3 linked regions of the Homo sapiens genome follow. The protein of the gene in region 1 purifies or fractionates together with the protein of each later gene. This does not show direct contact. Each region holds a gene or a part of one and is shown on either strand. Other genes may lie near its edges.

Evidence for each region.
Region 2: the proteins of RGS9 (region 1) and RBM25 purify together in Homo sapiens (affinity purification with mass spectrometry; 2 studies listed by BioGRID and IntAct, with this or other methods). This does not show direct contact.
Region 3: the proteins of RGS9 (region 1) and RGS7BP purify together in Homo sapiens (affinity purification with western blotting; 2 studies listed by BioGRID). This does not show direct contact.

The regions. Positions count from the first base shown.
Region 1 is NC_000017.11:65,135,464-65,139,215, reverse strand, and holds the start of RGS9 (regulator of G-protein signaling 9), read right to left. Parts: upstream 1,847-3,752; 5' UTR 1,676-1,846; coding exon 1,619-1,675; intron 1-1,618. UniProt on the Homo sapiens protein: Inhibits signal transduction by increasing the GTPase activity of G protein alpha subunits thereby driving them into their inactive GDP-bound form. Binds to GNAT1. Involved in phototransduction; key element in the recovery phase of visual transduction.
Region 2 is NC_000014.9:73,117,450-73,121,201, forward strand, and holds part of RBM25 (RNA-binding protein 25), read left to right. Parts: intron 1-2,263; coding exon 2,264-2,356; 3' UTR 2,357-3,752. UniProt on the Homo sapiens protein: RNA-binding protein that acts as a regulator of alternative pre-mRNA splicing. Involved in apoptotic cell death through the regulation of the apoptotic factor BCL2L1 isoform expression.
Region 3 is NC_000005.10:64,606,998-64,610,749, reverse strand, and holds part of RGS7BP (regulator of G-protein signaling 7-binding protein), read right to left. Parts: intron 1,590-3,752; coding exon 1,498-1,589; 3' UTR 1-1,497. UniProt on the Homo sapiens protein: Regulator of G protein-coupled receptor (GPCR) signaling. Regulatory subunit of the R7-Gbeta5 complexes that acts by controlling the subcellular location of the R7-Gbeta5 complexes.

The sequences.
Region 1 (3,752 bases):
GGATGGAGGAGGAGAAGGCTGGGGAGGAGGAGGAGGATGGGGTAGAGGAAGGGGAAGACAGGGTGGAGGAAGAGGACCTGGGGTGGAGGAGGGAAAGGTGGGGTGGAGGGGGGAGAGCTGGGGTGGAGGAGGGGAGCTGGAATGGAGGAGGGAGAGGTTAGGGTGGAGGAAGGGAGACTAAGGTGGAGGAGGGAGAGTTTGGGTGGAGGAGGGGATGCTGGGGTGGAGGAGGGGATGCTGGGGTGGAGGAGGGGTGGCTGGGGAGGAGGAGGGAAGCCTGGGGTGGAGGAGAGAAACTAGAGACCAAGACACTAGTCAGAAGACCAAGGTAAGGAGAGGAGAATCTACCAGAGAAGAGTCATGATGGAAAAGAATGCCAGAGATTCAATAAACAAACTGAATTTATCTCTTGACAATTACCCTCTGAGCCCCCAAGCCAGAGCTGTCCTGCCTGGGAGGAGACAGTCCTAGGATAAATCCTGGAAGATGATGTGTGGCTTTGAGATAGCCGACTTAGGCAGTTTCTTCTGCTTTTAGTAACTGGTATCTGCAATACAGGCTCTCAGGGTTCTTTCTGAGTGAGACAACATTCAGCCTGTCTGCTTTACAGATGATACCCACACCTCTGCTACCCGGAAGATGAGCACGAGCATCTTGAAACAGGTGGACCAAATGCGACCGTCTCGGGGTCCCCAGGACTGTCCAGGTTTTAGCATTGAAAGTCCTGGGCAAATCAGGACAGCGGTCACTGACTATACAAATTTGCTGAGCTCCAGGGGCTCAGGGAGAGCTCAGCTTGTCACAAAACATTCAACTAATTCTACTCAACAAGATAAGCCTAAGAAGATGGACACTACGCTGTGAAAAGTGGCTACGGGTGGGAGGAAGGACAAAGATGTGACCCGGGACCTAATCCTCTGTAGATCTCATCGGACAGTGATTATACCAGAAGCTCAGAACTAAATGAACCACTTTGTCCCCAAACACATCACCCCACAGGTGCATTCCACCTCCCACATGTCCATCCTGTGTGCACACCCTGTGCCCGGTCACTTTGTCTGGGAAAGCATTCGCAAGGGAAGCGAAAAGGTTGGGACTTCTGCCGCCAGCGCAGACAGCAGGAGATGCACAGATAGACACACTCAAATGAGGGCTCTCAGGGCATTGTAAATGGGGTGGCCCTTTATCCTACAAATCACCCCGTTTTCATGGTCTATGTGTACACACACACACACTTTAAAATAGTGCAGTTTGGGATCAGAAAAAAAAGGCAAAAATGGCAATGTCACATCTGGTCGTCTTACAACAATATCAGCAGGCTGTCTCAAATCTGCCACAGCCTGAACTGAACCTGCCTCTCCCGAGTAACAGGTTGTTTTCACCTCCCGCAGACCATCAGCGCTGGCTTCAGATTCTCCACTACAGGCAGGGCACACGAAAACCTAATTATTATAGCCATCAATATCGACACACACAGCAAAGAAGTCACTTAATAAAATCGAGCAGCACAAATCGACCCAAAGGGGTGCTCTCCACTCCTGCCCCTCTTGTCCTCGGACGCTTCGCAGATGCGGTCCCCCGCCCTCCTCCCAGGGTCCAGGTGAGGGGCCAGGGTTACCTTTTGGAGAAATGCCATCCTCGGCCTGTACTGCTGGCCTTGGTGTCGGATTGTCATCCTGGCCCCTGGATGGATTCACAGCCAGAGCACCAGTGGGAGACAAGAGGAGAAGCCCCCCAAGTTCGAAAGGCAGCCTGGCTCGCCCCAGCCCTGGGCGTCGACGGGGAGGCGGCTGGGCGGGGAGGGCGCGGGCCGGGCCCCCCTGACTCTCACTAGGCGCCGCTGACTTGGAAAGCAGCTGGAATCCGCGCCAGCCAATCCGCGAGCGGCGCCGCGGGCTCATTAGCATGCGCTGCGCGGGCGCCCACCTGCCGCCAGGGGGCGCTATCCGGCCCCCGCCGGGACCCCGCGGAGCAGCAGGTGAGACCCGCAGGGCAGGGCCCCGGGAGGAGAAGGAGGAGGAGGACCTGGCGGGAGGAGGAGGAGGACCTAGCGGGAGGAGGAGGAGGACCTGTCGAGAGCAGCGAGCCTTTTAACTTGGGGCGGAGTTATGCACAGAAGTGACACAAAGAGCCCTCACTAATACAGCGCGGTGGAAAATACGGACTTTCCCATCCCAGCTCTGCCACTAACCAGCCGGCAGCCTTGGGCAAGTTCCTTACAATCTCTAAGAATCAATGTCCTTCACTCAAAAGTAAAAATTGAAAAATGGGATCATAATATCGACCAGAAAAGGTTGCTATACCATTTTAATGAGGAGATGTGTAACACAGTGCTTGGCCCTCAATAAATGCTTAGAAAAAAAAATTAGAGGTGGCGATTTAATGACCCAATAGCAGAGGAATTGCTAAGATGTGGGTTTAAAAAGAGAGAGCAAAGAAGTGAAGAAGGAAGAGAGGAAGGTTGTAGTCCTCACCGGGCTAGCTGTCTGGATGAAGCGAATTATATTTTACTTCTCTGATTCTTAGTGTTTCGGTTAGTTGGTTGTTGGGTTTGTTGTTGTTTAACTTTTTTTTTGAGACAGGGTCTTGCTCTGTCACCCAGGCTGGAGTGCAGTGGCGTAATCATGGCTCATTGCAGCTACAACCTCCCAGGCTCAAACAATCCTCCCACCTCAGCCTCCCCAGTAGCTGGGGCTACAGGCACGTGCCACCACACCCCGCTAATTTTTACAAAAATTGTTTGTGGAGAGGGAGTTTCACAAACTCCTGGGCTCAATCGATCTACCCACCTCGGCCTCCCAAAGTGCTGGAATTACAGGAGTGAGCCACTGCAGCTGGCTGGTTTGCTTGTTTTAATAGACTTTATTTCTTAGAGCAGTTTTAGGTTCACAGCACAATTGAGCGGAAGGTATAGGGACACGTCATATATCCCCTCTCCCCACGCACGCACAGCGTCCCCCATGATCAACATCCTCCACTGGAGTGGCCCATTTGTTACAATTGATGAACCTACCTTGACAGCTCATTATGTTAGCGTTTTCATCTTGAGAAAAATGCAAGGATGAAGCCTCTAAGTTATTATCAAGAGCCTTTCTGCTTTGTTATATAAAGCACTTTCTCTTAAACATACTCGATGGTTATTGAGTGTAGCAGATAAAATGTTTAAGTTGGAAGAAAACAAGAAGGCCTTTACCTTAGGAAGGCACAGTCAACCAATGTCCCTTTAAAGCAGTGGTTCTTGGCTGGGTGTGATGGCTCACGCCTATAATTCCAGCACTTTGGGAGGCCCAAGCGGGTGAATCACTTGAAGTCAGGAGTTCAAGACCAGCCTGGCCAACATGGCAAAACCCTATCTCTATTAAAAATACAGAAATCAATCAGCATGGTGGAGCAACCTGTAATCCCAGCTACTCAGGAGGCTGAGGCACAAGAATCACTTGAACCCAGAGGCTGCAGTGAGCCAAGACTGAGCCACTGCATTCCAGCCTGGGTGACAGAGTGAGACTCTGTCTCAAAAAAAAAAAAAAGCAGTGGTTCTTATCCATTCTCTCGGGTGATATTTACCTGTAAGAATCTGATGAAAGCTATGGACACTCAGGAACACACACACATGCACATGTACACAACACTGACTGAAGTTTGCAAACAATTTCAAGAGGTTCATGCTTGGGCCTCTCTTGTGCCTTTTCAGGAATCCCTGATTCAGAGCCTCCAATTTAGAGGACGCTGGACCCTGCAGAGATCCATCCAAG
Region 2 (3,752 bases), on another chromosome or scaffold:
CAAACTCCTGACCTCAGGTGATCTGCCTACCTAGGCCTCCCAAAGTGCTGGGATTACAGGCGTGAGCCACTGTGCCCAGTCTCTTCCCAGGTATTTATTAAGCACTTGTTATATACCAGTCAGTTGTCAGAGCACTTAACTACATACCAACTCTTTTAATTCCCACTTAGTACCTACTGCTATGGTGTGTAGCTACATCGCCTCCACTTTAGAGGTGAGGGAACTGAGGCTCAGGTTAAGTAACCCAACCAAGGACCTATCGCTAGTAAGAGGCAGCAGTGCAATTTGAACCTATGTAGCCTGACTAGAGAATTTGAACCAATGTAGTCTGACTAGAGATTGAGTACTCTAAATTCCTACCCCAAACTTCCTCTATGAAGACCTGGCAACACTAGACCACATTTCTGGAGCACAGTCATAGCTGCCCCCTTCAGAAGGGAGCAGAGTAGGCCATTTCACCTCATAGCAGCCATAATGTAGAGGGGCAGATGTGTGTATGGGATGATGGCAGGAATAGTGATGGGGACACAAGGACCCTATAACTCATAAGTAGAGAGGAAGACAATTTCCTCATCCACCACTGGAAGAAGACTTGTTACTCAGTAGTCATGTGTGCCCCGTGATGATTGTATTTGCTTATTGTGTTTACTGTATTCTGGACACTGTACTAAATACTTATATTCTCATTTAATGTTCACTTTAGTGTCACATACACAATAAATGCTAGTTAAGATGGTACGGTTGGGCTGTGCACAGCAGCTCAAACCTGTAATCCCAGCACTTTGGAAGGCCAAGGTGCGCAGATTGCTTGAGCCCAGGAGTTTGAGACCAGCCTGGGCAACATAGTGAGACCCTGTCTCTACTAAAAAGCACAAAAATGTAGCCAGGAGTAGTGGTGCACACCTGTAGTCCTAGCTACTGGTGAGGCTGATGTGGGAGTATCACTTGAGCCTGGGAGGTCAAGGCTGTAGTGCACCATGATCATGCCACTGTACTCCAGGCTGGGTGACAAGAGAGATCCTGTCTCCAGAAAAAAAAAAAAAAAGTTTGTGAGGTTGTGTTTTTGGAGATAAATGAAATTCTGTATTGTTATTATGTAATTGTATATTATTTAGTTCTTCTTAAATTACTGTGTTCTTTATGAAAAGCGTATGGTTTCCTTGGGAAGTAGTTTTGTCAGACATGTATAATTGCAGTATCTGTAAAGGTAAAATAAAAGAATAAAAGGTGGATCACAAAAATATGGTACTCTTTGTGTTTAGTAAGCCATGGAATTTTGAATGATTTTTTTTTGTTGTCGTTGTTAATTTACATTTACTATTTATTTATTTATTTAGAGACGGAGTTTTGCTCTTGTTGACCAGGCTGGAGTGCAGTGGCATGATCTTGGCTCACTGCAACCTCCGCCTCCCAGGTTCAAGCGATTCTCCTACCTCAGCCTCCCGAGTAGCTGGGATTACAGGTGCCGGCCACCATGCCCAGCTAATTTTTGTATTTTTAGTAGAGATGGGGTTTCGTCATGTTGGCCAGGCTGGTCTTGAACTCTTGACCTCTGGTGATCCACCTGCCTCAGCCTCCCAAAGTGCTGGGATTATAGGTGTGAGCCACTGTGCCCGGTCCATTTACTATTTATTAATAATACATTTCTCACACTGGACAAATTTTCTTTAAGTCATTTTACTGAAAGCAAAACTACTTCCTAAGGAAAACAAATACGTATTATAAAGAACGTAGTAATTTAAGAAGAACTAAATATACAACTATGTAATAACAATACAGAATCTCATGTATCCCCTCAAAACAACCTTAAAACTTTTTTGTTTTTTTTGTTTTTCTTTTTTGAGATGGAGTCTTGCTCTGTTGCTCAGGCTGGAGTGCAGTGGCGCGATCTTGGCAAGCTCCGCCTCCTGGGTTCACGTCATTCTCCTGCCTCAGCCTCCCCAGCAGCTGGGAATACAGGCGCACGCTGCCATGCCCAGCTAGTTTTTTGTATTTTTAGTAGAGATGGGGTTTCACCATGTTAGTCAGGATGGTCTTGATCTCCTGACCTTGTGATCCGCTCGCTTCGGCCTCCCAAAATGCTGGGATTACAGGCGTGAGCCACCACACCCGGCCACTAAAACAACCTTAAAATCTTAACTAGCATTTAAGTAATAAGTGCTTATTGTCAGTGGATGAAAAACTTTTTTATACTGGCCACTGTTTTTGGCAGATGTTGATGATTGCTTCTCTTACATGTGTTGCTGTTTTGTTTCCTCTTTAGGTACTTGATGAAGAAGCAGAAGTTTTTATAGTCAAAATGTGGAGATTATTGATATATGAAACAGAAGCCAAGAAAATTGGTCTTGTGAAGTAAAACTTTTTATATTTAGAGTTCCATTTCAGATTTCTTCTTTGCCACCCTTTTAAGGACTTTGAATTTTTCTTTGTCTTTGAAGACATTGTGAGATCTGTAATTTTTTTTTTTTGTAGAAAATGTGAATTTTTTGGTCCTCTAATTTGTTGTTGCCCTGTGTACTCCCTTGGTTGTAAAGTCATCTGAATCCTTGGTTCTCTTTATACTCACCAGGTACAAATTACTGGTATGTTTTATAAGCCGCAGCTACTGTACACAGCCTATCTGATATAATCTTGTTCTGCTGATTTGTTTCTTGTAAATATTAAAACGACTCCCCAATTATTTTGCAGAATTGCACTTAATATTGAAATGTACTGTATAGGAACCAACATGAACAATTTTAATTGAAAACACCAGTCATAAACTATTACCACCCCCACTCTCTTTTGATCAGAAATGGCAAGCCCTTGTGAAGGCATGGAGTTTAAAATTGGAATGCAAAAATTAGCAGACAATCCATTCCTACTGTATTTCTGTATGAATGTGTTTGTGAATGTATGTGTAAAAGTCTTTCTTTTCCCTAATTTGCTTTGGTGGGGTCCTTAAAACATTTCCCAACTAAAGAATAGAATTGTAAAGGAAAAGTGGTACTGTTCCAACCTGAAATGTCTGTTATAATTAGGTTATTAGTTTCCCAGAGCATGGTGTTCTCGTGTCGTGAGCAATGTGGTTTGCTAACTGGATGGGGTTTTCTTATTAATAAGATGGCTGCTTCAGCTTCTCTTTTAAAGGAATGTGGATCATAGTGATTTTTCCTTTTAATTTTATTGCTCAGAAATGAGGCATATCCTAAAAATCCTGGAGAGCTGTATTTAATGCATTTTTGCACTAATTGGTCCTTAGTTTAATTCTATTGTATCTGTTTATTTAACAAAAAATTCATCATACCAAAAAGTGTAAGTGAAAACCCCCTTTAAAACAAAACAAAAAAATGAAATAAAATTAGGCAAATTGACAGACAGTGAGAGTTTTACAAACATGATAGGTATTCTGCTCGGCAATTTGTAAGTTTACATGTTATTTAAGGATAAAGGTAAATCATTCAAGGCAGTTACCAACCACTAACTATTTGTTTTCATTTTTGTCTTGTAGAAGGTTTATATCTTGTTTTACCTTGGCTCATTAGTGTTTAAAAATGTACTGATGATGTGCTTAGAGAAATTCCTGGGGCTTTCTTCGTTGTAGATCAGAATTTCACCAGGGAGTAAAATTACCTGAAAACGTAAGAAGTTTTAAACAGCTTTTCACACAAATTAGATGCAACTGTTCCCATGTCTGAGTACTTATTTAAAAGAAAGGTAAAGATTGGCCTGTTAGAAAAAGCATAATGTGAGCTTTGGATTACTGGATTTTT
Region 3 (3,752 bases), on another chromosome or scaffold:
AATTTCATATAATTCAACCTAATACAATAATTATTACAGTAGTTCATCTTCACTAAAGCAAAAGGCCTTAATATATTTAGTTTTTAGGTAAAAATATTGGTATACATATAAATGCCTGTGCACATAAGTATTGGTAAAGAACAGGGTTGGGACTAAAGATGTGTCTTGGATAAACCACTTATCGGCATCTAGCTCATCCTTCTATTGTACTGGACACTGGTGCCTCCTGTCTGACTTGAAGGTTTTTCAGACTATGGAAAACAAGAAAAAAAGTGCAAAGACTTGATCTCTCAACCCATGGGAAATTCTGTCTGGGAAATGGGCCAAAGGAAGAACAGGAGACGGTATAACAAAATTTGTACCATGTTACAAGTTTAGTGAAGGAAGATCACAACAAAGCTGTGAGCAGAAAAACAAAGCATGTGGCTTCCTCCTTTCTAAAATATAGTATTGCTTAATGTGTCCTGCTTTCAAGAGTCTAAGCATAAGACAAGACACCAAGTACACGTTGGAAAAATCTTATCTGCATAGTCATCTAAAATGAGACAAGCTTAGCTTAACTAAAAAACTTTATTAACAATGTAAAATGTTAAATATTTTTATAATCTGAGCTAATTCCAGCATGCCCTATAAGATTTAACACTATGCTGATGTGCAGACACCATGCTTCAGATTTCAATTAGAACAAAATGTAATAATATTTGATTTTACATTTGAGGGCAATTGTATATGTTACTACACCATTTCCTAACTGGATTACTTCATTCTCCAAGAAGCTGAAAAAGACATCATTGGATCAAAAAGAAATTAGTTGCCCATATGCATTTGTACGAAGGTATTAGGATTATTGTGTATTTACAAAATTTTAGTACTTTTCATATGTGGTTTTTGTTGCTTTATAAATTAAGATACTTTTATGTTGAAGCTCTTAGATTCTGACAGAATGGAAGACTAAATGTAAATGAGTGCAGAGAAAGCAATAGGTGAGGTGGTATATGTTTGCTTATAATATTATTTCTAATGATATTGATAGATTGGATTTTTGAACACAGTTTTTCAGTTTTAAATAGATTTCTATGTTTAAAGACTTCTTTCATATACGATAAATTTTAACATGAGATCAGCAAGAGCTATAGATATACTATTATATGTGAAATATTTTTCCTCTGTATAATACATTTAAAAAACCTTTAAATAATTTAAAAATCATAATTCTTGCATCTGTCATGGCGTGGTTTGGAGCAGACATGCACAATGTCAGCTTTAAAATTCCCTTTTAAAAACAGCCTGGTTTTTGAATCTGTTCTTTTTTTTCTTGACGGCAGCTGCTTTCAAGTGTAAAATCATTTAAAAGGGCAGGGGGAGGCAGATAAAAGTAATAAGGAAGCATAGAAAACATAGTCAAAAACCAATAACTGTGTGGTTCAGCTGTCTGGAGGTCCTCGGGTTTTGTGATTTTTTTTCAGATGTTCTCAGTGGGTTTCCAGGAGGAGCCACCTAGCTTGAGATGAGACAACACAGCCCAAAGAACCTTCTCTTCCGTCTTCTCACCAGGGGGTAGGGAGTTAGATTCAGAAGGCTGCTGTCATCTGTGATGGGACATAATGTGCACATAAGTGAGGTATAGACACAACAACCTGCTTTTTAGGAAGTGGCTTTAAAAATCCACCATCCTCCTAATCAGGATTTCTCAACCTCAGCACTGTTGGCATTTTGGACCAGATGATTCTTGGTTGTGGGGTACTGTCCTGAGCACTGTGGAATGTTTAGTAGCATCCCTCAATTCATCAGATGCCAGTAGCACTGTATGACAATTTGTGGCAACCAAGTATATCCCCAGCTATGACCAAATGTTCCCTGGGGTGGGAGGCAAAAGAGTTCAAGGCTGAGAACCACTGCTTAAAATTGAATTGAAACTGCTTAGAGGCAATCTTTCAGTTGGGAAACGTATATACCTTATTTGAAAGAACCCATGCTTATGAGTAAGGTTGGCTTCTTTTCTAAACCTGCCTCTGCTATTTGCCAGTTCTGTGACTTTGAACATGTAACTGAAGCTTGCTAAGCTGTCTGTAAAATAGAGTTTAATAAAACTTAGCCCAGGTGAGGATTACATGAAATAATCTATGAAAAACATTTAGCTATGGTGAGTAGCTTACTGTCTAGCATAGAGGAAGCGTTTAGTTAAAATAGCTATTATTAACTATTTTCCTTTACATTGGATCATTATCACACCTTCATTCATTGACTTCATGTCTCTTCATGTTTCAACTATTTCCTATTGAGTCTTTCCCCAGCACTTTCTATAGATTTCTGTACACAAGGGCATTCATAGAAGACTGCCAGCTGTTGAATTAATAAGTTTTGGTTTGAAATTTTTAGGATGATGACAGGTAGAGGTAGAAATAAACCAGTAAATCTAATCTGGTTTAAAGAGTTGGGTTATTTAAAAAAGTGCAAAGCAAAAGAGAAGGTGGGTAGAAATATCCTGTTGAAGCAGAACTTGTCAATGTGGGTCCCAGAGGCAAAGGACTATGAGGGGATAATCTAGAATTTTCCAACTGGGGCAGTGTTATGACATGGTCAGACTGGAGCTAAGGGCAACAAGATGGTTGGCATTGGTGACTGTTACGTACCTAAGCTCCGCCAAGACTAGTTGCACTTTCCTTCCAGAGTGGGGCTAAGGAGTTCCCTCCTTTCCCTGTCCTAACCTTAAAGGGGATGGAAGCTTGGCAAAGGGCACAGAAGCAGAAGTTAGATGAAGAGATAGCTAAAGTGAAGAATGTGCCCCACCTCAATCGAACTGATTCGTAGAAGAGGGCTTGTTTTTCCTGATTACTGAGCCTAGATGCTGTAAACCAAAAATAAAATTGTAAACCCCCCAACCACCTGAATGGCCCCCTCCTCTCAGCCAACTGCATTCCAAAGTTAACTTGAAAAGCTAGTTCAGGCCATGTTGGGAAGAGGCAGTTGAACATTCTTCATTATATCCTCCTCCCTTTTGGAATTTAGACAAAGCTGACTGGAGTTAACATCAACACAGAGACCTTAAGACTGATAAAACAGACTCCTTCCGTCCGATAAGAAGCATTTATAATCTATTTTTGCTGAAGTCTGCTACCTGGAGGCTTCATCTACATGATAAAACCTTGGTCTCCATAACCCCCTATCATAATAACCCAGACATTTCTTTCTGTTGCTTCCCGGTCTTTAGATAATAACTCAAGCAACTGCCAATCAGAAAATCTTTGAATCTGCCTATGACTTAGAAGCCCCGCTTCCAGTTGTCCCGCTTTTCCAGACCAAACCGATATACATCTTATGTGTATCGATTAATGTCTTATGTCTTCCTACACGTATAAAACCAAGTTGTAGCCTGACCACCTTGGGCACATGTTCTCAGGACCTCCTGAGGCTGTGTCATGGGCATGTACTTAATCTTGGCAAAATAAATTTCTACATTGACTGAGATGTGTCTCAGATACTTTTTGGTTTACAATGCTCAGGAAACTGTTGAGAGCAAAAATAGATTCTGGCTTTCCAGTCCTCTTACATAAAGTGTCATCTAAGTGCCTGGGCTTCTCCTCCCCTTCCCAAAGGCTCTAATGTGTCATACTTATTTGTAAATTAGTATCACCCACCAAGGTTGACAGTGTTCCTTGGAATGTTGCACTATGTTATATATTTAGATAGAGCTAGAGTAGCAAGTCCAAGCCAGAGAAGAAAACAGGTGCCTCCGCTGGGCATATCAAATG